Linked DNA regions of Homo sapiens: regions 2 and 3 are each linked to region 1. Evidence: fine-mapped expression QTL. A gene starts in region 1. Each other region holds a variant in brackets. All regions are shown on one strand. Distances are from middle to middle.

Evidence for each region. PIP is the estimated chance that this variant, and not a neighbour inherited with it, causes the effect. A credible set is the group of variants that fine-mapping cannot tell apart.
Region 2: its variant is the best candidate, but not a certain one, in a credible set for the expression of ABCC6 in uterus (GTEx, PIP 0.57).
Region 3: its variant is the best candidate, but not a certain one, in a credible set for the expression of ABCC6 in putamen (GTEx, PIP 0.68).

Annotation. Positions count from the first base shown.
Region 1 is chr16:16,219,976-16,226,670 of GRCh38, reverse strand. It overlaps ABCC6 (ATP binding cassette subfamily C member 6), which reads left to right and starts at 3,177. Exons shown (of 31, transcript NM_001171.6): 1 at 3,177-3,272; 2 at 4,840-5,022. The coding sequence starts at 3,237.
Region 2 is chr16:16,824,338-16,834,924 of GRCh38, reverse strand. No RefSeq gene overlaps it. Among named protein-coding and RNA genes, the nearest start is that of NPIPA7, 450 kb to the right of the region's middle. The variant G/A (reference allele first, on the strand shown) is at 5,579.
Region 3 is chr16:16,437,932-16,448,518 of GRCh38, reverse strand. No RefSeq gene overlaps it. Among named protein-coding and RNA genes, the nearest start is that of NPIPA7, 64 kb to the right of the region's middle. The variant T/C (reference allele first, on the strand shown) is at 5,283.

The DNA of each region.
Region 1 (6,695 bases):
ATTAGGGGTAATAACATCTTCCCCAAATATAACGAATACTATCACAGGGTGTTCACCCATTGTGATATGAGACATAATAATATCTCCCCAGGATACAACAAATAATATCACAGGGTGTACACCCACTGTGATATTAGAGGAAATAATATCTTCCCAGGATATAATGAATAATATTACAGGGTGTACACCCACTGTGATATTAGAGGGATTAATATCTTCCCAGGATATAATGAATAATATCACAGGGTGTACACCCACTGTGATATTAGAGGAATTAATATCTCCCCAAAATATAATGAATAATATTACAGAATGTTCACCCACTGTGATATTAGGAATAATAATACCTCCCCAGGATATAACCAATAATATCACAGGGTGTACACCCACTGTGCTATTAGGAGTAATAATATCTCCCCAGGATATTACAAATAATATTACAGGATGTACACCCACTGTGACAATATGGGTAATATCTCCCAGGATATTATGAATAATATCACAGGGTATACACTTACTGTGATATTAGGAGTAATAATATCTCCCCAGGATATAATGAATAGTATCACAAGGCGTACAGCCACTGTGATACTAGGAGTAATATAGTAGTATCTCCCCAGGATATAACAAATAATATCACAAGGTGTACATGCACTGTGATATTAAAGGAAATAATATCTCTTCAGGATATAATGAATAATATCACAAAGTATACACCCACTGTGATATTAGGGGTAATATTATATCTCCAAGATATAGTGAATAATATCACAGGGGGTACACCCACAGTATATTAGGGGTAATAGTATATCCCCAGAATATAACGAATAATATCACAGGGTGTACACCCACCGTGACAATATGGATAATATCTTCCAGGATGTTACGAATAGTATCAAAGAGTATACACCCACTGTGATATTAGGGGCAATATCTCCACAGAATATTACAAATAATATCAAAAGATGTACACGCACTGTGACATTAGGGGTAATATCACCCAAAAATATTACAAATAATATCACAGCATGTACACAATGGTGTACGTTCATTGTGATATTATGATATCCATAGGGTATTACAAATAATAGCACAGGGTGTACCCCCACTGTGATATTAGGAGTCATATCTTTCTGGGAGGTCACAGCGTGTACACGCATGGTGTAAATTCACTGGGATATTAGGAGTAATATCGCCCTAGAATATTTCGAATCATATCACAGGGTGTACACCCACTGTGATATTAAAAGGAATATCTTTCTAGAACATTACAAATAGTATCACAAGGTGTACACCCACTATGAGATTAGGAGTAACATCTCCCTAGAATATTATGAATAATATCACAGTGTGTACAGGCACTGTGATTTTAGGAGTACTACCTTCTTAAGATATTATGAATAATATCATAGGGTATACACCCACTGTGAAATTAAAAGCAATAGCTCCCTACGATATTACGAATAATATCACGCAGTGTACACTCAAGGTGATATTAGGAGTAGTATCTCCCTAGGAAATTACGAATATTATCACAGAGTGTACACCCACTGTGATATTGAAAGTATTATCTTTCTAGGATATTATGAATAATATTACAGGGTGTACTCCCTCTGTGATATTAGGAGTTATATCTCCCTAGGATATTACAAATCATATCACAGGGTGTACACCCACTGTGGTATTAGGTGTAGTATCTCCCTAGGATATAACAAATAATATCACAGGGTATACACCTACGGTTATATCAGGAGTTATATCTTCATAGAATATTATGAATAATATCACAGGGTGTACACCCTCTGTGATATTAAAAGTAATATCTTTCTAGGATAGTATGAATAATATCACAGGGTGTACTCTCACTGTGATATTAGCGGTAATAACTCCCTAGGATATCACGAATTCTATGACAGAGTGTACACCCACCATGAGATTTGGAGTAATATATCTCTAGCATATTATGAATAATATCACAGGTTGTACACCTACTGTGATATTAGGAGTAAAATCTCCCTCGGATATTACAAATAATATCACAGTGTGTACTCCCACTGTGATATTAGGAGTAAAATCTCCTTCAGATATTACGAATAATATCACAGGATGTACACCCACTGTGATATTAGGAGTAATATCTCCCTTGGATATTTCTAATAATACCACAGCGTTTACACACATGGTGTTCACCCACTGGGATGTTAGGATAATATCTCCCTTGGATATTACCAATCGTATCAGAGGCTGTACACACGTGGTGTTCACCCAGCGTGATATTAGGAATAATATCTCCCTCGGATATTAGGAACAGTCTCTCCCTGGGACTTAGCAGAACGTAGCCCCCCAGTGTTAAATAAGCGACCACAGCAAGAGGTAGAGGCGCAGGGACTGAAATGAAGACAAATATCTGACAAGTTTAAAACACGTATTTAAAATAGAATTTATAAAATGCTTAATCTGCCGACTCAGGAGCCCGCGGTGCAGGGTGGGGTGGGAGTTGGCAGGTGACCGCTACACCAGCAGAGTAAGACTGCAGGGCTGCGGCCCTCCCTCCTATGCCCTTCTGTTCAGACACCCGAGGGGCCCATGTGCACTCCTGGGATCATACGACCAGAAAACAGGACCCTAGAGGTTTCTTGAGTTTCTGCTTACCAGGGCGGCTGGGTATAGCCCTGCCAGCCCATTGCATAATCTTCTAAGTTCTCCCCACCACCCTCCATTCCAGCAGCGAGGTGCCTGTGACGCGGTCTCCATCCTCTCGGCCTCGACCCGGTGGTCCCCGCGATTGGACGCTTAGGCGGTCACCAGGCCTCCTTGTTACTAACGTGTGCACACCTTTCAGTTCTCTCATCAGGATGAACTCCTGGAAATTGCTGGGTCCAAAGTGTTTAGGAAGTCTGGAGTGATTCTTGTTGCAGGGGGAAGAGGGAACTATGGAGGTGTCACTGAACTTTCAGGGGTTCCGGGACCCCCCAACCCGGTGCCCGTCCCAGCTCCCCGAGCGCCTCTCTTCCCCCATCCCCCACCTCGCCTGTTTTCACCTCCCGTGGCCTCACTCCCGCCGCGCAGCTGGACCTTGCCCGGGGCCTCCCGATCCCGGAGCTCGAATCCCAGCCGGACCAGCCCAGCCCGACCAGCCCAGCCCCGCCTCTTCTCCGGCAGGATCGCGGCCGAGCAGTCTGCCCAGAGACTTAGCGACAGACAGACGCTGGGACCCACGACGACAGAAGGCGCCGATGGCCGCGCCTGCTGAGCCCTGCGCGGGGCAGGGGGTGAGTGCCCCCCATCGCGCCCCACTCTCCTTTTCCAGGCTTGGTTTGGCTGCAGATCTCTCGGGCTGCGATACTGGGGAGAGGAGAGACCCCCAAATTCCTGGACCCGGGAAGCGAGGAGACTTACTCCGGCCCCCTCACTGCAGCGGGTTGGATTTCTTTCACCAAGCCAGCAGCCGAGAGCCCAGCTCTATTTAAGGGGCCACCAGACCTCCCAGCTACTAGGGGCTTTGACTCTTCTTTGCATAAAGCTAGTGGGTCCCCCAAGCCCTCCTACCCCCGGAGAGCCCTTACCTCTCTGGTTTCTTTTTCCATTGCTCTTAGCAAAGGACTCCAGGGAGTGGAGTTCATGGAGTGGGGGTGGGGGTTGCAAACTGCCAGCATTTCGAGGGCCAGGGAGTTGAAGCAATAAACTGGCAATGAACTGAGGGCTTTCTCTGTGCCTAGCCTTGTGCCCAACCTTGTGCCATGCTGCTATGAACTTTGCTGCTATTAATCCATTTAATACAACTCATAGAGGTAGAGTCTCGTTTTCCCCCTTTTACAGGGAAGGAAACTGAGATACAGAGAGGTTAAAGTTTGCACAGCCGGTGAGTTGTGAAACCAGGAGGAGTAAAAAGACAGCGGAGAGAGAATTGAAGAGGCCACGTCCACTAAACTTCAAATTTCTTCTAGGGTTAGATAGGACCAGCAGACCTGCTGAGATGAAAATAACAGATCAAGCTGGGCCGGTGGCTCTTGCCTGTAATCCCAGTACCTAGGAGGCTGAGGCAGGAGGATTGCTTGAGACCAGGAGTTCGAGACCAGCATAGAGAGACCCCCATCTCTACAAAACATAAAAAAAAAAAATTAGCCAGGCCTGGTGAGGCTGCTTATGCCTGTAATCCCAGCACTCTGGGAGGCCGAGGTGGGAGGATTGCTTGAGCCCAGGAAATTCGAAGCTTTGTTGAGCTTTGATTGTGCCACTTCAGCCTGGGCAACAGAGTGAGACCCTGTCTCTAAAACATAAATTAATTAATAATAAAAAATAAAAACAAATCATACATCAAGACCACCAGTCGAACGAGGTTTGGGGTCAGATAAGCCTGGGTCAGAGTCAGCTTTGCCACTTCCCATTTGTGTGTCCCTGGGGGAGGCAGTTCCCCGACTGGTGCCTCAGTCTGCTGGTTTCTGAAATGGAGACAGTACTGTCTGCGTCCTGGAGTTGTTATAAGGATTAACTGACAGTCCATGCCTAGCAATGATTATGGAGCCCAGGTCTCCTAGACCACATGGCCCAGTTCCCTGGGTTCAAATCCCAGCCCTTCCACTCCTCAGCTGGGTAAAGTCAGCAAAGTTACTCAACCTCTCTGGTCCTCAGCTTCTTCATCTGCAAATCAATATAATTGCAACTACCTAGGGTTAATGTCAGGATGAAAGGAATTGAGAATTAGTAGGTATTCCAAAGAGTACTTGGTACATTTTTGTGTAAATGTTAAAGATCCAAAAAGTTGCCTGGCCCCCTGGGCAGGTGAGCTGGGGACCCCTGCCTTGTACCATCCTAAGGGTCCTCTTTGTGTTCCCTCAGGTCTGGAACCAGACAGAGCCTGAACCTGCCGCCACCAGCCTGCTGAGCCTGTGCTTCCTGAGAACAGCAGGGGTCTGGGTACCCCCCATGTACCTCTGGGTCCTTGGTCCCATCTACCTCCTCTTCATCCACCACCATGGCCGGGGCTACCTCCGGATGTCCCCACTCTTCAAAGCCAAGATGGTAGCTGCCATCCCTGGGAGCCTGGAACCAGGCAATGTTCGGGGGAGGCAGGGGACAGGCTGGAACCTGGTGAAGTCTTAAAGTAGACTCCTCCTATCGGGGTGTAGAAGGGAATCTGTTAATCAAACAGAGCAATATTAGAAAGGCTACAGAGGTCAACTCAGTGGAACACGGTTCTCCCAAACAGATTTTGTAATTCCGAAAATCCACGCATGCGCAAACATACGCATACACTCCCATGTTCCTGGACAGTTTATAGCTACCATAACCTGGCATTTTCCAAAACATACCATGTAGACTCTTGGATACACAAGGTAATTTTAGAGCCACATTAGGATGAACCTTTTAAAAAGTTATGCATTTATTTTTATGTTCCCCCACTGGCTGTATTATAGGACAATTTTTATATGTGATATGTATTTACCTTAGTGTGTTAAATAAACACTGGCATTCCAAGTGTGAGCCTTTCTGCTCATCCATCCTCTTCTACTCCATTCTTGTAGGCTTCCAAAGAATGTTCTTCAGAGTTCATTCATTCTTCTGCCATTGTATTAATTTTTACATTATCACCCGCCACCAACCCAGGGGTTGGCAAACTTAAAGAGCCAAGCGGTACACAGTATTTGAGACTTTGTGAGCCAGGTAATCTTCCTTCCGAACACTGAACTCTGCCATTCCAGAATGAACGCAATAGTCATAACCATAGACAATAGTCATGACTGTGTTACTTTTTTGTTTGTTTTTTTTTTTTGAGATGCAGTTTTGCTCTTGTTACCCAGGCTGGAGTGCAATGGTGCGATCTCGGCTCACTGCAACCTCCGCCTCCTGGGTTCAAGTGATTCTCCTGCCTCAGCTTCCCGAGTAGCTGGGATTACAGGTGCCCACCCCCACACCTCGCTATTTTTTTGTATTTTTAGTAGAAACAGGGTTTCGCCATGTTGGCCAGGCTGGTCTCCAACTCCTGACCTCAGGTGATCTGCCTGCCTTGGCCTGCCAAAGTGCTGGGATTACAGGTGTAAGCCACCACCCCCGGCCGACTGCGTTTCAATAAAACTTTATTTGTAGTCACTGAAATTTGGATTTCATGTAATTTTCACCTGTCATGACATATGCTTTTTGTTTTTCTTTGATGATTGATAGTTTGCCAACTTCTGCTTTAAACTGAGGTTCTTTGAGCAGTTCCTCCAACGTAACCTAGCTCTGGCCTTCCCTCTGGTGTGCCCACGTTCTCTCATTTTCTTCCTTTCTTTTATTCAATAGAGAAACCAAAATATATTAGAGAGACCCTAGAGACTTACTGGCCCAACAGAGAGTTGCTCCTTGATTTCATAGCAGGGATTGAAAAATGACTTGGAGAAAGGATAGTTTTTTACCTGGTGAGTACATTTCATTTCCTGCTGTTTCTCCATACCCACAGTCATCTCATATGTGCACGATTGGAGCACTTCCTGCATTTTGGAAAACACTCGGTTGGCTCAAGCCCTTCCTGTGCATTATTTATATGACAGTTACAGGTCAGGAGTGATCTGCAATGCCCTTTACACATTGTTCACATTGGCACGTTGCTAGCTGGTGACCCTGGTATACTCAGTATCAGCCAGGATGTTGCAGAACCAGCTCCCAGTTGGACATGGGGCCGCCTACCAGTTTGCTGTGACCTCTCTTATTGCCCC
Region 2 (10,587 bases), 610 kb before region 1:
AGGATATATAGAGATACACAGGAAGATTTATTATGGCCTCCAGCTCCATCCATGTCCCTGCAAAGGACATGATCTCATTCTTTTTTATGGCTGCATAGTATTCCATGGTATATATGTACCACATTTTCTTTATCCAGTCTATCATTGATGGGCATTTAGGTTGATTTCATGTCTTTGCTATTGTAAATAGTGCTGCAATAAACACGTGTGTGGAAGTGTTTTTTTGTTTTTTTTTTTTTATACTTTAAGTTTTAGGGTACATGTGCATTGTGCAGGTTAAGGAAGTGTTTTTATAATAGAATGGTTTATATTCCTTTGGGTACATACCCAGTAATGGGATTCCTGGGTCAAATAGTATTTCTGTCTTTAGGTCTTGGAGGAATCACCATACTGTCTTCCACAATGGCTAGACTAATTTATGCTCCCACCAACAGTGTATAAGTGTTCCTTTTTTTTTTTTTTTTTTTTTTTTTTGAGATGGAGTCTCACACTGTCACCCAGGCTGGAGTGCAGTGGCGTGATCTTGGCTCACTGCAAGCTCCGCCTCCCAGGTTCATGCCATTCTCCTGCCTCAGCCTCCCAAGTAGCTGGGACTACAGGCTCCCGCCACCATGCCTGGCTAATTTTTTGTATTTTTAGTAGAGACGGAGTTTCACTGTGTTAGCCAGGATGGTCTCGATCTCCTGACCTCATGATCCTACCACCTCGGCCTCCCAAAGTGCTGGGATTACAGGCATGAGCCATTGCGCCAGACCATTCCTTTTTCTCCACAACCTTGCCAGCATTTATTATTTTCTTACCTTTTAATAATAGCCATTCTGACTGGTTTAGATGGTATCTCATTGCAGTTTTGATTTGCATTTCTCTAATGATCAGTGAGTGCCATTACCCTTAGCAAACTAACTCAGGAACAGAAAATTAAATACCGCATGCTCTCACTTATAAGTGGGAGCTAAATAATGAGAACACATAGGTACATAGAAGGGAACAACACACACTGGGGCCTTTTGGAGGGCGGAGGGTGGGAGGAGGGAGAGGATCATGAAAAATAATTAATGGATACTAGGCTTCATTCCTGGGTGATGAAATGATTTGTATAGCAAACCCCCATGACACACATGTACCGATGTAACAAACCCGCACTTGTATTCCTGAGCTTAAAATAAAAGTTAAAAAAAGAAAGATATGAGACATTGGTTTACCTCATTATGGAGTCTGAGAAGTCCCACAATCTACCATCTTCAAACTGTAGAATCAGGAAAGCTGGGGTGTAATTCCAGTGCAAGTCCAAAGTCCTGAGAACCAGGAGAACAATGATGTGCATCCCAGTTTGAGTCTGAAGGCTCAAGAACCTGGAACTCTGATGTCTCAAGGGCAGGAGAGGATGGATGTCTCAGCTCAAGCAGAGAAAACAAACTCACCCTTTCTCTGCCTTTGGTTTTTATTCAGGTTCTCAGTGGACTGAATGATACCAACCCACATTCAGTAGAGTGATCATCTTTACTCAGTCTACTGACTCAAATAGTAACCTCTTCCAGAAACACTCTCACAGACACACCCAGAAATAATGTTTTACCAGCTATCTCGGCACCACTTAGCCCCGTCAAGTTGACATATAAAATTAGTCATCACGCCCCCTTATGGGCATCTCAGATTTGTTATGTCTTCAAAGAGCTCTCATTTTATCCAACCTCATGCTCCTCTGCCAGTTTTCATATTTCAGTAAAAGGCCTCTGCATCTGCCCAGTTGCTCATGGCAAAAACCATCCTTGCTTTCAAAGTCATCCTTGATTTATCTCTGCTAGAACTCATCTTCGATAGATCAACAAGTCCCGTTTGTTTTATCACCAAAGTAGGTCTTGACTTCCACTCTTCTGTAAGCACATGGCCATTACCCTAGTCTAAGGCACCTGCTTTTGTCTGGGTTACTGCAAAAGCCTCCTTACAAAAAAAAAAAAAAAAAAAAAAAGTGAACTTTTTGTGTCTATCCCTGCTTCCCATTTTAATACACACAACATCTAGGGTTGTCTTTTGAAATGGTAAATCATGTTGTGCTATTCCTCTGCTTAAAATCCTTTAATATATTTTCATTTTCTTAGATACAGCCTAGAGTTACTAAAATAGCCTACAAGTTTTCACATGTTCTATCCACACCCACTCCTATAACCTCATCTCAGACCACACTCCTGATTGTTGGCTAAGACTTAGGCCCCTCAAGCACTTTCTTGCCTCCAAGCCTGTGCCCTTGTTCTCATTGCACTTACTCTTTCCCTCATCCATTCCCAAGCCTAGTTCTTTCTCATCTTTCAGGCCTCAATTGAAACATCACTTCTTCAAAGAGGTGGTCCTGACCTCACGATCCAAGTGACCTCTCCCAGTTACTCTCCAGCCCATCACCTTATTTATTTCTTCCACAGCACTCACCCCATTGGTAACCGCCTGACTCATGTGAGTTTGTTGGATGCCATAATCCCCCCTAGTCAATTGGTATCATGACGGCAGGGGCTTTGTCACTCTTGTTCACAGTTGCATTCCCAGTGCCTTGCATGGTGCCTGGCACATAGTAAACTGTCAACCAATATTAATTAACTAAGTGAATGAAGGGGATAATGTGCAGGACAGCATAGGAGCTAAAAAAAAAAATGTAAAAAAAGATACATGTGCACGTATGTTCATTGCAGCACTATTCACAGTAGCAAAGACATGGAATCAACCCAAATGCCCGTCAATGATAGACTGGATCAAGAAAACGTGGTACATATACACCATGGAATACTATGCAGCCATAAAAAAGAATGAGATCATGTCCTTTGCAGGGATATGGATGGAACTGGAAGGCTTTATCCTCAGCAAGCTAACTCAGGAACAGAAAACCAAACACTGCATGTTCTCACTTATAAGTGGGAGCTGAACAATGAGAACACATGGACACAGGGAGGGTAACAACACACACTGGGGCCTGTTGGGGGGGTGGGGTGGGGGGAGGGAGAGCATTAGGAAAAAGAGCTAATGCATGCTGGGCTTAATACCTAGGTGATGGATTGATAGGTGCAACAAACCACCATGGCACATGTTTATCTATGTAACAAACCTGCACAACCTGCACACATACCCCAGAACTTAAAATAAAAATAAAAATAAATTTTTTAAAAAAGATAATGTAAAAAACTCCAACTTCCTTCCTCTAAAGAACATTGTACAATGGTGTTTTTAGGAAAAATAAAATAGCTTCACCAGAAACACACATATCAGATAGGAGATGATACTCACACAAGAACAGAGGCAGGGAGCCCTCACTGCAGAAGCAAGACTCTGAAACCCAAAGAGGAGGAGAGAGAGAGGCTTGAGAACCTAGAGAAAATGTAGCAGAGGGAAAAACCAAAGAAAATGAAAACAGTCTTCATGCCAGTAGTGTGTAAACTCCAGAAAGAGAGCTTTCAATGAAGAGATGCTGTGAGCCAGGCTCATGATATTGAATAGCAGTTTTCTAGATTAACAAGAGGAGTAAATCAAAATCAGGATGAGGGGTAAAGGACTTATGGATTGGAGCATAAAATGCATTATAGCCACAAAGAATGGTTGAACATGCCACAAAAGCACACAGCCACTGATAAACAATGTGGAATATCCAGCTAATTCCAGCATAGTCCAGTGACTCATTAATAGAGGATGGAGGAAAGACGGCCAGGATGATCCCAAATCTCAGTGAAATCAAAGCAAGAGTCAACTCTCCAATACCTGGGAGTGGGTGATTCATAGTTAAATCATCACAGAATCCTGGGATACTCAATGGGGCTTACATTGTAGGAGGTGACGAGTAATATTTTCTGGACCCTAGTGTTGGGAAAAAAGAAGTCCATTATTCTGCTGAGCCCTCAGAGAAAATGAAGGATCACCTCCTCTATAAACAAAGAATTGATTATAGAAGCTTGGCTTTCCTCCTCCCATCCTTCTGAGACTTATAATCAATTCTTATTTAGTTCTCACCTACTTAGCAAATCCCAGCAGAGACTGGAGCATGTCCCAAGTCCTGCTTCCATACTGACCTGGTTAATATTCAAACTGGCTGCTCTTAGATGAGTAAATATTGAACCCAGGGCCAGCTGTAGGTGGGGAGGGAGTAGCAGGAACTGAATGTTTAAGGCGACATTAGAAGAATGGCATTTTATCCTTATAAGTGTGGAAGGACTTTACCCAAGAAAGTGGCCTAGATAGGATGAGAGGAAGTGGCTCTGGCCATGGTGCAGTGCATGGATTGGAGGGAAAGAGCCTGTAGGCAAAATACCTGGGAAATGAAGTGTGAAAAGAAGGGGGAAATTTGAGGCATGTTTGGTAAGTACTGATAAGGAAAGAGTTTGGTTGATTATTGGATGTAACAAGCAGAGATGAGGGAGGATCTGGAATGACACCCACATATTAAGCTTACATCACTGGGTGAATGTGGTTATTCATTAACATCAGTAACACTAAAAGAATAAGTGGATTCAGGAAACATCAAAGACTTTCTCAGTTTTCACATTTCTTCTTGGACGTTCATCACTGCAAGAGTTTCTCCACTCTCCAGTGGTGGACTGTATCACTTGCTCACAATGACTTGCACCCTATCCACTCTAGCCATGCTTCCCATCCCTGCCCTATTGCCATTGGGCTTGGCAGCCAAGGGACGTGTTTTGACTGATGGAATGTGAACAGATATGACAATCACCATATCCAATCAGTAGCTATAAATGAACTCCTGAAATTTGGTTCTGTGCTCTTCAGCCTCTGTCATCTATCATGAGAGTAGCATGCCGCCAAGAGTGGCTGCTCCTTGAGAATACAAGAGGAGAGAGCTCAGCCCAGCCCAGGAGAGCCATGGGTGACCTTTGGCACAGATATAATATAAGCTAGAAACCTACAGCTCTTGGATTTAGGAATTGTTTTTTGCTGCAGCAAAAGCTGATTATGATACTTCCAAAATCTTAGTTAACCCAGAAAGTGACTTACCATCTCTGAATTCCTTATTCCATCATTGGGGAAGTTGAACTAAATGACTCCAAACTCCTTCTTGGTTCAAAAGTGTTTGTTTTTTTAAAGACTGTGTTGCTGTTCTATGATATAATGTTGTTTGGGTGTTCAAGCAATTTTTTTTTCTTTCCAAAGATACAGATAAATAAGACAACTTCAACTTAGCCAGACTCTAGCCTGGCAGTTAACAGTACCAAACTAGGACAAGGCCAAAGTGCAAAGACCTGAGGTGGTTTAAGCTGCTGCAGCAGAACTTGTATTCTGAAGACCCTGAGATTAAAAAAAAAAAAAAAAAAAAAAAAAATCTATAAAGCACAAACGCGCCGCATTCAGCTGCTCCGGTTATTTATATGAGCATTTCCCGATTCAAATTGCATGCTCAAATCAAATTTCCCTGGTTTATGCCTTCTTCAGCAATTACTTAAGGGCAGTTTACCTCTCTCTGGAGGAACACAGCAGAAAGGCCTATAGACAAAATCTCTTTGACTCAGGGAGAGATAAACGCACTCTAGGCTTGGTGTTGCAGAAGTCACTTTGCCTACGGAGGCGAACGCAGATGAGCCTCCTGGCT[G/A]TTTTTCAGCTCGGCTGATAGGAACACATTCTCCAAGGAGGAGGGGGAGGCCTACAGAAATTGTAGGAGAGAGGTTAAGGCTTGGGGATGGGGAGGAAGAAACTACCTTCCCTTTATGGAGTTTCTTTTGTGGGGCTGCTGTGGTTTGGATGTGGTTAGTCTCCCTCAACTCACATTGAAATTTGATCCCCCGTGGGGCAGTATCAGGAAGTGGGGCCTAATGGGAGGTGTTTGTTCACGGGGATGGATCTCCTGTGAATAGATTAATGTCTCTCTCAAGAATGAGTAAGCTCCTACTCTCTCAGGAATGGATTAGCTCATCTGAGAGTGGGTTGTTAAAAAGAGCCTGGCCTCCTTGGTTTCTCTCTCTTGCTCTCTCTCTCACCATGTAATCTCTTTGCATACACCCACTCCCCCTCCACTTTCCACCATGAGTTGAAGCAGTCTGAAGCCCTCACCAGATGCAGATGCCTAATTTTAGACTTTCCAGCCACCAGGATCATAAGCCAAATAATCATCTTTTCTTTATAAATTGCCCAATCTCAGATATTCCATTATAGCAACACAAGGTGGACTAAGACAGAGGGTAGCAGGTCAACAGCTGAAAGCTGCTCCCACTCCAGTGAGATTGAGAAAAGTCAAAGGTGCACAGGGAACACATAATCATTTTTGTACCAAAAAGTTTCTGGACCCTCCAAGATTCACCTTAACCAAGATGAACCTACCACAAAACAATGCAACATTCAAAACCTATGTTCAGTGTGGCATCAGCTTGCCTTTAATTCACTTTTCCCCATTTGGGAGGATTCCCTCATCTGCCATCAAAGAAGCATCATTTGTTCATTTATTTTCTCATTGATTAATTTCCTTAGTCACTAATTCTCCTTTATATTTCCTTCTTCATTCAGTTGTTCAACTTGATAGTCCTTCTCTTGATTTGACTGCCTGACATCTGCTACTTTTTCTTTTAATAACAGCATCCTGGCTTTATTTTGGGAGACAGCTCTCCACTGTTCCCACCACATATGGTAGAGGTGAAGGTGCCCCATAATCCATTTCCTCCTCTCTAGAATCAGATGCACAACACTGACCTGACCAAACAGAATGCCATATTGTCATGGCCAGAGTGATTGGTTTGAGGATAGATGGACATATGGCCCAAGCCTACCCAAGGGAACCCTCCCTGGAACTTTTGGCAGAATTATTAGAAAAGAAAAAAAGAAAAAAAATCCAATAACTCATTGTGAATTAAATAAATCAAGCCAGGAAGGATTAACACAGATAAAATATCCCTAGTTACTAAAACTTATCATGGAAAAAAGAGTCAAGGTAGTTACTTCTGAATCTACCACTTACTAACTTGGAAGACCTTGGACAAATCATCTCAATGAATATGTCTTTGTAGTCATGATAATGACTGTTCTTTGTGGGTAAGCGTCTGTGAATAGGTCCCACCCACTCTCCTATCCAGGTGGCTGGAAGCAAGGAACTTTAAGATGATGGAGTTGCTGCTGGGTGTGGTGGGTCACACCTGTAATCCCAGCACACTGGAAGGCCAAGGTGAGTGGATCACCTGAGGTCAGAAGTTCAAGACCAGGCTGGCCAACATGGCAAAACCCTGTCTCTACTAAAAATAAAAAAAAATAAAAAAACACCTAGCTGGGCGTGGTGGTGGGCGCCTGTAATCCCAGCTACTTGGGAGGCTGAGGCAGGAGAATTTCTTGAACCCAAGAGGCAGAGCTTGCAGTGAGCCGAGATCACGCCACTGCACTCCAGCCTGGGCAATGGAGCGAGACTCTATCTCAAAAAAAAAAAAAAAAAAGACGGAGTTACACAATGGAAACATCCCAGATCCCTGAGTCGAGTCACTGTTCAAGGAGAAAAGCCAAGGAGACTCCTAAACCACCTCTGACTTTGAGGTGAAAGAGACATATGTCTTTGTTACATTAAATTAGAAATGTGGCAATTTGGTTTACTGCTGCACAGCAAGTCTAACTAATATAACAAACATAGGTTCAATTATTCACGGATACCCGAAAGGTAACACAGATACCATGGCTTTATGACATGAAGCCATTTTGTCAAGACATGACTTTGAATGGTGCCTTCTGCCAAGACATGACTTTGAATGGGCAGGTGTCTAGCAACAGAGGAAGCAGATGCTCTTTCTGCTGACCAGCATCTTATTTCCAGGATGCTTCAGTGGTTTGTGAGGACAAGAATATTTGAAATTGGGATTGGTCCTATAGTCCACCATGAGTATGTGGTGATTATAAAATAATCTCAATGTGCCATTGGGAAAAGATAAGGACCAACAATTCAACCATGGAAATGGGTAAATGTGGACAAACCACCTAAGATAATGGCATGCTGAAAAGAGGGCAGCAGAGATGAGTCAGATTTAAGACGCTGTAAAAATCGAGAAAGAGAAGATGAATTCAATAACAGGAATGGCAGTATCTGCTGCAATGGAGGAAATAAAGGCATAGTGACTGAAATCATAAGCTTTGGAATCAGTTTAATGCAACAAGGATTAATGCAAAAATTTAATGCAATAGTGTTTGAATTCCATTTCTGCTACTGACTAGCTGTGTAATCTTGAGCAAGTCACTTTATCTCTCAGCCTGAATTTTCTCATCTGAAATATAAGGATTAAGAGAGTCCTTACCCTGCCTCATGGAGTACTGAAAGGATGAAACTAAATGATCCATGTAAAGTGCTTAGTACACAGTAAGAGCTCAATAAATTATCATAATGATATTGGCATTGTAAAAGAAAGCATGAACAAAGAGGTATATCTGGAAGAGATGAAGAAATTAAAAGGAGAAAGAGGGTGGTAAGGTCGTTAGGGTGGGAGCCAAGCGCCACCACCAATGAATGAAAGGGCAGAAACAAAGAATCAGCACCACCATTTAGCACTTTATTTTATTGTCTTTGAATTATGATAGCTTTGATTTGGCTAACTGCAAAAAGTACAGGTTTAAACTGGACTTGCCTTTAGTTAAAATAAAGGCAAATAAATTTTTAAAACATAAATGCTATATTTCACAAGAAATCAGTTGTTATTATCAATTACATATTCAGTTTTTTAAAGGAAGATGACTGTTAAACCACATAGCATTTGGGGGACATTAAAGGAAATTTTCTTCCTCTATAGAGCATTGTACAATGATGTTTTTATGAAAAATAAAATATCTTCACCAGAAATAAAAGGGTATATCAAATGGGAGATGATACTTAGACAAGAACAGAGGCAGGGAGCCCTCACTGCACAAGCAAGACTCTGAAATCCACAGAGGAGGAGAGAGAGAGGCATGAGAATCTAGAGACAATGTAGCAGAGGGAAAAAACAAAGAAAATGAAAACAGTCTTCATGCCAGTAGTGTGTGAACTCCCGAAGGAGAAGAAGTCCAGAAGGGGGTAAAGAATAGAGACAGAGATGAGAGGGGTAAGTAAAACACAGGAAGTCAAAGGAGGAGAGCTGAGTCCAAAGAAAGCTTTGAAAGGTTGACTGAAACACAGAGATGTAGGAGAAGCACAGCTTAAAGCAGAAACAAGCACTAGAAATAGCTTAAATACACAGAACAGGAGAATTTTTAATGACTGCATGGGTTTCTGAATTCCCAAAAGCTCTGGAAACCAAATTTTTTAAAATTAAGGTTGGCACAAATTCATTTGGCAACAAAACTTGACCAGAACTGAAATGAGGCTATTTATGTCCTTTATTTATCTCACATCCCACCTAGCATGAACATCCACATATTTAACGGCAGTAATGAGCTGACCAGGAAGTGCTACTGCAGACCCCACTGAAAGTGGGATGTTGTGGAATGTATAGTTTATGCTCCACATTACCTTTCTAATTTCCATAACATTCTGAATTTTAAAACATGTGTCCCCAAGGGTTTCCAATCAAGGATTGCGAGCTTCTATTAGAAGATACAAAGCTGGGTACAGTGGCTCATCTTCGTAATCCCAGCTCTTCAGGAGACTGGAGGATTGCCTGAGGTCAGACTTTCAAGACCAGCCTGCACAACTAAGACCTCATCTCTAAAAAATAAAAACTTAGCTAGGCATGAAGGTGCACATCTGCAGTCCCAGCACCTCAAGGGCTGAGAGTCCTGAACCCTCAAGGGCTGATGCAGGAGGATTCGCTTGAGCCCAGGAGTTCGAGGCTGCAATGAGTTATGATCACAGCACTGCACTTCAGCCTGGGAGACAGAGAAAGAGATCCGATCTCTAAAAAACAAAGATGACAATGATGATGATGATGATGAAGACAATGATGACACAGGACTGGACTGAAAAGAGATACTTGTTTCTAATGAAGTTAACAAAACGTGCCATTTCTTGAGTATATAGCACTTACAATACCAAGTGCTATAGACTCAATATTTCATTTAATCCTCACACTGTATCAGATTTCATTTTATTTATTTATTTATTTATTTTGTAGACACTGCAAGTGAGGTTTGAGAACTGAAGTAATTTGCACCCCCACATCCTGTTTATACAAAGCTGGCAAGAGGCAGAGTTTAGGATTTGAACCCAGCTATGTGACTTTAGAGCATGAACACCTACTAGGTCATGCTGCTGAAACCATGCCCCACAGGGTTAAAGAAACCGGTGACTAACAGAAATCTTGAGCTTATCTTGCAGGAATAAGATACAGTTTGCTGGCCGGGCGTGGTGGCTCACACCTGTAATCCCAGTACTGTGGGAGGCCAAGGCAGGAGGATCAGGAAGTCAGATCGAGACCATCCTGGCTAACACGGTGAAACCCCGTCTCTACTAAAAATACAAAAAATTAGCCAGGCGTGGTGGCAGGCGCCTGTAGTTCCAGCTACTCGGGAGGCTGAGGCAGGAGAATGGCCTGAACCCGGGAGGTGGAGCTTGCAGTGAGCCAAGATGGCGCCACTGCACTCCAGCCTGGGCAGGCGACAGAGCAAAACTCCGTCTCAAAAAAAAAAAAAAAAAAAAAAAAGATACAGTTTGCTACAGTCCCCCCT
Region 3 (10,587 bases), 220 kb before region 1:
TCTCAAGCCTGCTGGTTTTCAGACTGGAACTACACCACTGGGTCTCCTGGGTCTCCAGCTTACTGACTCATCCTGCAGATCTTAGGACTTGTCAGCCTCCATAATTGCATACACACACACACACACATATATATAAAAGTGCATATAGATACATATATGTATGTGAATGTATGTATATAAAAGTGCATATAGATACATATATGTATGTGTATATATATATATACACACATACACACACATATGTGTGTGTACATATACATGTGTGTATATATACACACATGTATATGTGTGTATATATACACACATGTATATGTGTGTATACACACACACACACACACACACACACACATATATATATATATATATATATATATATGGACCATAGAGAAGTCTCTAAGCCAAAGCTGGGGACAGGGGAATCCTGTGTCTCCTGGGGAGAGGTCTGCTTTAGTGTCCCTGCCATGCTCAGTCATTAGCCAGGAGCACCTCATGGAAGGAAGCATATGGATTCCCCATATGCTTATATATGTGTGTGTGTGTGTGTGTGTGTATGTATATGCATATGTGTGTGTGTATGTGTGTGTGCTATTCTATTGGTTCTACTTCTCTAAAGAACCCTGACTAATACACTCCCATTCTCCTACTGGTGCTTCCCAGAGTCACCCTACAAATAAACCATTACATGGAAATCCTCATCACAGGATCTGCCTCTGGGAAAACCCAGCCTAAGACATCCATGACTTTCATAGGAGAAGAAAGAGCTCTAGAATTGGCAGCCTTACTGAACCATGTGGAAGAGGAAAGGAGAGCACCTAAACAAAAGGGTATTAACCAATTAAAATAACCTAAACCCACACTTGTCCAAATTGCTGAGCAAGTGGGATGGAATGGAACAACTTTCAACCAGTGTCCAAATATTGCTGTGACTCCTAGACTGGCTTGACACAAAGGCAGTGTCCACCAGCTCTAAACATCCATCTCAACTAAGATTTCTCCAGGAAGGCTAGAACTGACACCCTCTGCTTAGGTTCTCAGTGACTTCACCCAGCCAGCAAAGGAGCTCTTAGGAAGGCAGACAAGCCCTGAAGTCTGTCTGCTCAGACTCCAGCTACCTGCTCTATTCCTGCTTTATCAACCTCTAGCTTAGTCGCTCAATCTCCAGCTTTGCTCCTTCCCATTAGATTCTATGGCTGAACCTGACTGCCATAGTTTGTTTCTCAGATGAATTTAAGGCAAGGGTTGCAAACTTAAATGCACACATGGGCAGACAAGTAACACAAATGAGTGAAGAGTACAGATTAGGGCAACTGGGTCTGGTGGAGACTGTGGCAAACTAGAGAGCACACACCTTATCTAAGGAGGCAGCGAGGACTCAATTTTGCAAGATTTGTGGAATGGACTCCCAATGTTGCCAAACTGCCACTATTTTTTAAAGAGAAGCAGGAAATCCAGGGGTTTTTAAAGATGTAAAATACACAGTTTGTTGAATGCTGGCAACTGATTTTTTTTTTTTTTTTTGAGACAAGAGTCTCACTCTGTTGCCCAGGCTGGAGTGCAGTGGCATGATCGCAGCTCACTGCAGCCTCCTCCTCCCACATTCAAGAAATTCTCCTGCCTCAGCCTCCTAAGTAGCTGGGATTACAGGGGTGCACCACCATACCCAGCTAATTTTTGTATTTTTAGTAGAGATGAGGTTTCCCCCTTGTTGGCCACGCTGGTCTCCAGCTCCTAATCTCAAGTGATCTGCCTGCCTTGGCCTCCCAGAATGCTGGAGTTACAGGTGTGAGCCACAGCACCCAGCCCTGATTTTTTTTAATGTAAATACTGTATGAACCCAGACAAATGTTCTGCCAGGCCACTGCTGCATGGCTCACCATGTGGTGGCCCTGAGAATGGGCCTCATCGACCTCCCTCTACTGGGAGTGTAATTAACCAGGGCCCCAGCTGCTGCGCTGGGGAATCCATATGCTTCCTTCCATGAGGTGCTCCTGGCTAATGACTGAGCATGGCAGGGACACTAAAGCAGACCCCTCCCCGGGAGACACAGGATTCCCCTGTCCCCGGCTTTGGCTTAGGGACTTCCCTATGGTGTTCGCACCCTAACTTTTTTCTCCTCTCTCTTTTACTCAGAGTCAGACTTGCATTACTGTCTCAGGTTCTCCCAGCTTTATGTGGCACCTTCTTTGCTTTCTCTCAAGGGCATTTCCCTTAATAAAAATCACATATGTGTAATCCTGTATGGGAGTTTGTTTCTCAGAACTGGGCTGACACACCATCTTGCAACTCTGCTTTCGGCATTCAGCTCACACTTACTTACACCCTCCAAACTCCAACTATTTAGGGCTAATTCCATTCCAGCTCCCACCCCTTGAATCCCTTCCCCCCTCCCCCCACTTCCTCCTCCCATTCTGCTTTCCTGGAAACAGCATTTCCACTTACTTTTGAACAATGGTCCTTCCTTCACTGTTCATTCATGGAGTTTGGATAGCACCATCTTCTAAAGCTAGAGCTGAGCACATGATCAGGACTGACTAATCACCCTCTTCTACTTCCTTAGCCACAATAATTCGTTCAGAGATGGGCACCTGACTCTTACAATGCAATGAGAGTCAGCTTCTTATGCCAGTGCTTTTGGCAAAGGTAAGTTCATTTTCCCCTGGGATTACTAAGCTGGTAGGAGGTAAGTCAGCAGCTGCTGATGGCATAAGAAAAGGGCCTGATAATGAAGCCAACATGGATGAAAAGAGAGCTGAGAAGTAGAGATCAGACAGATTTCAAAGCATATCATTTAAGCATCTGGATCCAGCCATACTTGAAGTCCAGTCTATCTGTGGGCTTTGAAGTTGCATGGAACAATAGCAAGATGTAGCTGAGAGAGTTTTGGCTAATATACCACCTCACCTCTCATTCAGTTTCATGGAATATAACAGACATTGCCAACTAAAATTTACAAACAGCATTGATATAAAAGCTCCGCCATTTAAAAAAGGAAACTTTCTATTCTTTCACTGTGTGGCCTTGGGAAATTTCTAATCCGTTCTGAACTTCAGCTTTTTTCCCTCTCAAATGTAGCAAATACAACATAACTTGCTTGCCATGGAGGGAAATCAGATGCCCTTATCTAGGAAAGTAAAGATAGAGGTATAAAACATTGTTATTTCAAAAAAAAAAAAATCCAGCACATAAGTCTAGGAGCATTGAACAAGGGTCAGATTGCATGGATTCAGATTCCAGCTCCATTACTAACTGGCTGTGTGACCTTGGACAACTCAATTGACCTCTCTGGCCCTCAGTTTCCTTATCAGTAAGACGGAAACTCCAATCGTATCTATTGCACGGGATAGTTGTAGAAATTAATAGATACATAAGTGCTTAGTGCAACATGTGGCACTCAAAATATGTGTGGTATGATTGTTATTGACACAATGGTTGACCCATGAATGACTGTGATGCCAACCCCCTCACAGTTGGAAATCCACCTATAACTTTTGACTCCCCCAAAACGTAGCTACTAATAACCTATTGTTGACCAGAAGTCTTACCAATAACACAAACAATATACACATATGTTGTATTTTATATGATTATACACTGTATTTTTACAATAAAATAAGCTAGAGAAAACAATATATGATTAAGAAAATCATAAGGAAGAGAAAATGTATTTATTATTCATTAAGTGGAAGTGGATCATCATAAATGTCTTCATCCTCATTGTCTTCACATTGAGGAGACTGAGGAAGAGGAGGAAGAGGAGGAATTGGTTTCGCCGTCTCAGAGGTGGCAAAAACAGAAAAAAATCCATGTATAAGTGGACCCATGCGGTTCAAATCCATGTTGTTCAAGGGCCAACTGTATTTATATTACAATAAATGCTGTTAATGTTGTCACTGTTGACCCTTCTAGTCCATTCCCAACATCACTTCCTATGCCCAGTGGAAAATTCCATCTTAAAATCACCCAGCCCAAGCCCTCTTCAGTAGACTCAGATAGATGGCTTGTCAAGGGCATGACTTAACTTCTCCAAACACAACCAGCCCAGTTTCAACTGCCATTTGGGGAACTTTCCCAATTACCACATTTCCGCACATCAAGTATGAATTACTTTAATTGCCCCAGAAGAACGCACTGTTGAAACATTTGACTTGCCCAGAACTAATTGTCTGTCAAAAAGAGATTTTGCAGCCAAGCTGATCTCTTCATTGGACATCTAATTTAACTGAAAACCTTTTTCCCTGCTTGTTTTATGCTTTCTTCTCCTGTTTTTGCCAAATTCTGGATGCTGGGCACTGCTTTCAGAAATAATTTATCTTGTTATTTTCTATTATAAATGTAATACATGTTCATTATAGAAAAACTGAAAAAAAAAAATTCCAAATGAAGAAAAACAGTTGATCCTAGACTCATTGCCCAGAGGAAGACTATGAACATTCCACATGAAGAAAAACAGTGGCTCCTAGACTCATTGCCCAGAGGAAGACTATGAACATTCCACATGAAGAAAAACAGTTGATCCTAGACTCATTGCCCAGAGGAGGACTATGAACATTCCAAATGAAGAAAAACAGTGGCTCCTAGACTCATTGCCCAGAGGAAGACTATGAACATTCCACATGAAGAAAAACAGTTGATCCTAGACTCATTGCCCAGAGGAGGACTATGAACATTCCAAATGAAGAAAAACAGTGGATCCTAGACTCATCGCCCAGAGAAAGACTATGAACATTTTAGCACGTCTCCCTCCCAGGTTTCCTAGAATAGATGTCTGTACATAGTTAATAAAAACATATATTCAAGTTTTGCAGCTTTTTGTTCCACTTTACATTTTAAGTTGAACGTTTACACTTCCCATTCCAAGATCTTCAGAAACATGTTTAGAAACAGAAGAGTATCCCAACAACAGTCTGTTTAACCTCTTCCCCTAATGCTGAACTATTGTTGCTTTAAGAATACATTTTCTGTGTGTGTTTCAGATGTAGTTTCCTTAGGAAAGATTCTCTATGCTGTGCAACAATTCCCCATGTGTCTCTTACATTTCTGCACATCTTGTGTCAGCTTTTGTTCTAGACCGTCTTTATAAGGATGTTTGTATAGCTAATAGCATTAGAAGATAGGGCTAGTATAGTAGAAGACAGATTTATTTGCTGATTAGGATTATAATAATAATATCTCCGGACCAGGCGCAGTGGCTCATGCCTGTAATCCCACCAATTTGTGAGGCTGAGGCAGGCAGATGACCTGAGGTTGGGAGTTCGAGACCAGCCTGGCCAATATGGTGAAAC[T/C]GCCATCTCTACTACAAACACTTAAAAAATTAGCTGGGTGTGGTGGTGGGCGCCTGTAATCCCAGCTACTTGGGAGACAGGTGGGAGAATTGCTTGAACCCAAGAGGCAGGGGTTGCAATGAGCTAAGATCATTCCACTGCACTCCAACATTGGTGTGACAGAGCAAGACTCTACCTCAAAAAAACAAAAAACAAAAAAAGAAGAAGAAAAAGAAAAAGAAAGGATTATAATGACAATGTCTCCCTCCATCCAGGGTAAAGGTTGAAAAGACCAAGATTCCTAAACTTGGGGTTCCTCAGGTGTGATGCAAATCCACTGCAGGCACAGATTCTACCTGGATCCATCCATGTATTACTCATTTCTCACACTGCTAATAAAAACATACCCAAGGCTGGGTGTGGTGTCTCACACCTGTAATCCTAACACCTTGGGAGGCCGAGGTGGGCAGATTGCCTGAGCTCAGGAGTTTGAGACCAGCCTGGGCAACATGGTGAAACCTCATCTCTACTAAAATACAAAAAATTAGCCAGGTATTGTGGTGCACACCTATAATCCTAGCTACTCAGGAGGCTGAGGTGGGAGAATCGCTTGAACCCGGGAGGTGGAGGTTGCAGTGAGCCAAGAATGCGCCACTGCACTCCAGCCTGGGCGACAGAGTGAGACTCTGTCTCAAAAAAAGAAAAAAAAAAGGCTAGGCATGGCTGTAATCTCAGCACTTTGGGATGCTGAGGTGGGCAGATCACCTGAGGTCAGGAGTTCAAGACCAGCCTGACCAACATGGAGAAACCCCATCTCTACTAGATACACAAAATTAGCTGGGTGTGGTGGTACATGGCTGTAATCCCAGCTACTCAGGAGGCTGAGGCAGGACAATTGCTTGAACCTGGGAGGCAGAGGTTGGGGTGAGCTGAGATCCTGCCATTGCACTCCAGCCTGGGCGACAAGAGTGAAACTCTGTCTCAAAAAAAACAAAAAAACAAACAAATGAAAAACATACCCTAGACTGAGTAATTCATAAAGGAAAGAGATTTAATTGACTCAGGGAGGCCTCGGGAAACTTACAATCATGGCAGAAGGGAAAGCAAACATGTCCTTCTTCACATGGCGGCAGAAAGGGGAAGAATGAGCAAAAGAAGAAAAAGCCCCTTATAAAACCATCAGATTTTGTGAGAACTCATTCACTATCATAAGAACAGCATGAAGATAACTGCCCCCATGATTAAATTACCTCCCACTGGGTCCCTTCCATGACACATGGGGATTGTGGGAACTACAATTCAAGATGAGATTTGGGTGGGGACACAGCCAAACCATGTCAACCTGTGTCACCCTTGAGGGACTTGGGGGTCAAAGGGAACTGGTGCAGACATGAAGCTCAAGCTTCCTGTTGTGCCATGAAAAATAAAGTCCTTTATCTCTCAATCCAGAGTCTCATGTCTTCTGCCCACATCCATAAAACTCACTAGCCTCCATGTAGGATAATATCTTAGACCAGCACAGTTCTTGACACTCTAGAAGTGAATTTGTTGGATCAAAAAGCATGAACAATTGCTAAAACTCTTAATATGTCTTGTCAATTAGCTCTCCAAACAAATGAGTCATTGCCTGAAATCTCTTTTGTCCTCAGGAAGGGATAGAGCTGCTTGACTCAGATCTCCCAGGTGGCCTTAGACCGTAATGTCTTCCTTTCGTGCAGAGCTCTTACCATCCTAAGCCACTACTCCTACCTAATATTCTATAAAAAGCTTTTTCTCCCTACCCAGTGTCTCCAATGAGCTGACTTTCTTTTCTGGATTACTCTTTTATGTAATAAAAAGTAGACATGAGGGTCAAACAGAAAGGGAAAAAGGGGAATTTGTTTAATTTCTACCAAGTGCCAGGCATAGTACAAAGAACATTTAGATAAGGCAGAAGGCATTAATTATTTTTATCTACCCAGAACCCCCTGCCCCACCTAAGCACCCCAGCCCCTGACCTGGCCACGTGGGTGGCTATGTGACCTGAGCTGAACCAATCAGAGTCCTTCCCTGGGATTTTTTTCACATCATAACCACATGAGAAGGTCTCCCATTATGAAACAGAGAAGCTTGTTGGCAGCCATGGTTCTAGCCAAGGATGGAAAAAACAACCAAAAAAAGAAAAGAAACAAAAAAAAACCCACCATGGTAAAAAAATACATATATAAAAATAAAAAAGATATGACAGACAGACAGACATGGGGAATGGTCTCTTTCCAGTTGCCCCTGCCACTCAACTGCTCTCCTACCTTCCTGGATTTGGTTATGAGAGTCAATAAATTATCCCCTTTTATTGCCTAAATGACTTCCATATGAGTTTCTGCTCCTTGCAACCAACATAATCTTGACAATTAATAGTAGCTAGCATTTTGTGAGTGTTTACTGTGCCATGCCCATTAATACACCTAATCCTCTCTACAATTGGACAGGTAAGGTGCTTTTAGTAACCTCCAATGTACAAAAAGGAAAACAAGTTGGGTGAAGTGAAATGACTTGCTCACAGTCGCTGGGCTAACAAGGGGGCAGAGTCAAAGTTTAAACCCAGAGCCCATACTCTTCCCTATTGTATAACACAGACATGCTGTCTCTGTTCCCAGTGCTGGGGAATGCAGAGAACTGGGGACTGAAGGAAGAGCAGGCGTTCAGGTAAGCATTAATCAGGGGACCTTCCACAAGGGAAAAGGGAGTACTGGCCCAGTTGAAGTCCAGCCAGCACTCAGCATGGTCAAGGATGGGGTGGTGCTCTCTCCAGCCATTCAAGGTGCTGAGAAAAGAACAGAACTTTCATCTGAGGAATACAAGCCTTTTAAATTATTAGGCCCAGAGAGGCAATAGAATGAGATAGCAATCATGTCCTACATACCCCCTTTGAGCTCGGTATTCATTTCTTAAAACTGCTTGCCATTGCCACAAGTAGCTATAAATTAATCTAATAATGCCCCACTGGATGCTATAACCCACACCTCATAGCTTAACAATGTATAGCCAATCACTCGTCAATGTTATTTCTGAAAACCAGTGAGAATTCCTGACAACCAACTGTGTACCAGCCCACTCCATGTCCCCCTTTTTTGCCTTTATAAATCCACTTGTAACTGCTGCTAATTGGAGTGTATATTCAGGGAAACTTGAATCTACGCTCCCTGGCTACAGTCCTCAAGCTTGGCCCAAACAGAGTCTTTACTTACATTAATTTTGCCTCAGCTTCTTCCTTTTAGGTTGACAGTGCTACAGGCTGAATTATGTCCCCCTAAAATTCAAATTTGAATAAATGTTCAAATATGAATTTGAGGCCAGGCACAGTGGCTCATGCCTGTAATCCCAGTACTCTGGGAGGCCGAGGTGGGCAGATCATCTTAGGTCAGCAGTTTGAGACCAGCCTGGCCAACATGGCGAAACCCCATCTCTACTAAAAATACAAAAATTAGCCAGGTGTGGTGACGCATGCCTATCATCCCAGCTACTTGGGAGGCCAGGATAGGAGAATCACTTGAACCTGGGAGGTGGAAGTGGCAGTGAGCCAAGATCGCACCACTGCACTCCAGCCTAGGCGACAGAACGAGACTCTGTCTCTCTCTCTCTGTCTCTCTGTCTCTCTCTCTCTCTCTCTCTCTCTCTCTCTCTCTCTCTCTCTCTCTATATATATATATATATATATATATATATATATATATATATATGAATTTGAAGCCCTTCAACCATATGGATCATATGTTGAAGTCCTAACCCCCTAGCACCTCAGACTGTCATTGTATTTGGAGATAGGGGCTTTAAATAGGTGATTAAGTTTAAACCTATTTAGCTCATTTAGGGTGAGCTCTAATCCAATCAGACTCGTGTTCTTATAGGAAGAGGAGATTAGGACACACAGAGAGACACCAGGGATGGACAGGCACAGAGGAAAGACCATCTGAGGACACACCAGAATCGACCATCTGCAAGCCAAGAGGAGGTCTTCGGAGGAACCAACCCTGCTGACACCCTGATCTCAGACTTCCAGCCTCCAGAATTGTGAGAAAATTAATCTCTGTCATTTAAGCCACCCAGTCTGTAGTACTTTGTTATGGCAGCTCCAGCAAACTATATCTACAGGAATCCATCACCACTTATGACAGGCTCTGCCACATAGTAGGTGTGTGTGCACACACCACACACAAACATGTTTAGAATATGAAATCTGTGAACCCTACTCCCACACTGATAACAGTTCAGGAACAGTTGATTTTCCCTCAGGGAATCTGGTTTGTTTTCCTAGTTTCCATCCCATCAAGACCCCTTCCCACCTGCTGGGAAATACTTGCCTGAACCCCTCGTTCCTTTCACAACACACACCTGATGGTAGGAAGAAGCTTCCAACTCTGATATTGACAGGGTGCTTGTAACCTAGCACCCTTTCTCCTACCTTGTTATGGAAAAATAAATCCTTTATCCTATTTCAACTACAGTCTTGGCAAAGGAAAAAACAAAACAAAAAAGGAAACCAGCCTAGAAATGGAAACCAAAGATCATGAACAGTGCTATGCTGAGTTACAGCTAAGGGTTGGCCTTTCTGGAGCTGGCTGCCTTCAGATGGCAGGGCTCTGAGAGTGTGTGTGTGTGTGTGTGTGTGTGTGTGTGTGTGTGTGTGTGTGCCAGAAGCACAAGATGACACACCCTGTGGTGGGGTCAGGCAAGCTGATTGTGGGAAAGGTGGGAACAGAATATTTTACAACAATGTTGGAAAAATGGGTTTACGTTCTCTGAGAGGAAGATACCCAAAGCTTCAAGCTCACCTCAAGGGAAAATTGAGCTAGGTTCCCATGCTCTCCACTTGGATCTCACGCACATGAACACACATACAACCTTCTCCTCAATATTCACAAGAGGCCTCTGTTGTCTGCTTCTCCAGAGAGCGGAGGTGAATTTACCTGAAGCTAATGAGGCTTGGGCTTCAGGGTCTTTTCCTTGTACCTGTCTCTTTAAATGCTGGACTTGGGGAAGGCTTTAGGTGAGAAGGGAAAGCTGGGTTTCAATAATGAAGCACCTCTATGTTCACATTTCTGATTAATTGCCTACACAGATCCCAGAAGAATGGAATGGAAATAGCTAAAGGCTCCAGAATTTTCTCTTTTTATTTTTTTGAGACAACATCTCACTCTGTTACCCCCAGGCTGGAGGCTGGAGTGTGGTGGCAAGATCATCGCTCACTGCAGCCTCCAACTCCCTGGCTCAAGCGATCCTCCCACCTCGGCCTCCTGAGTAGCTGGGACTACAGGCACACACCACCACACCTGGCTAATTTTTTGAA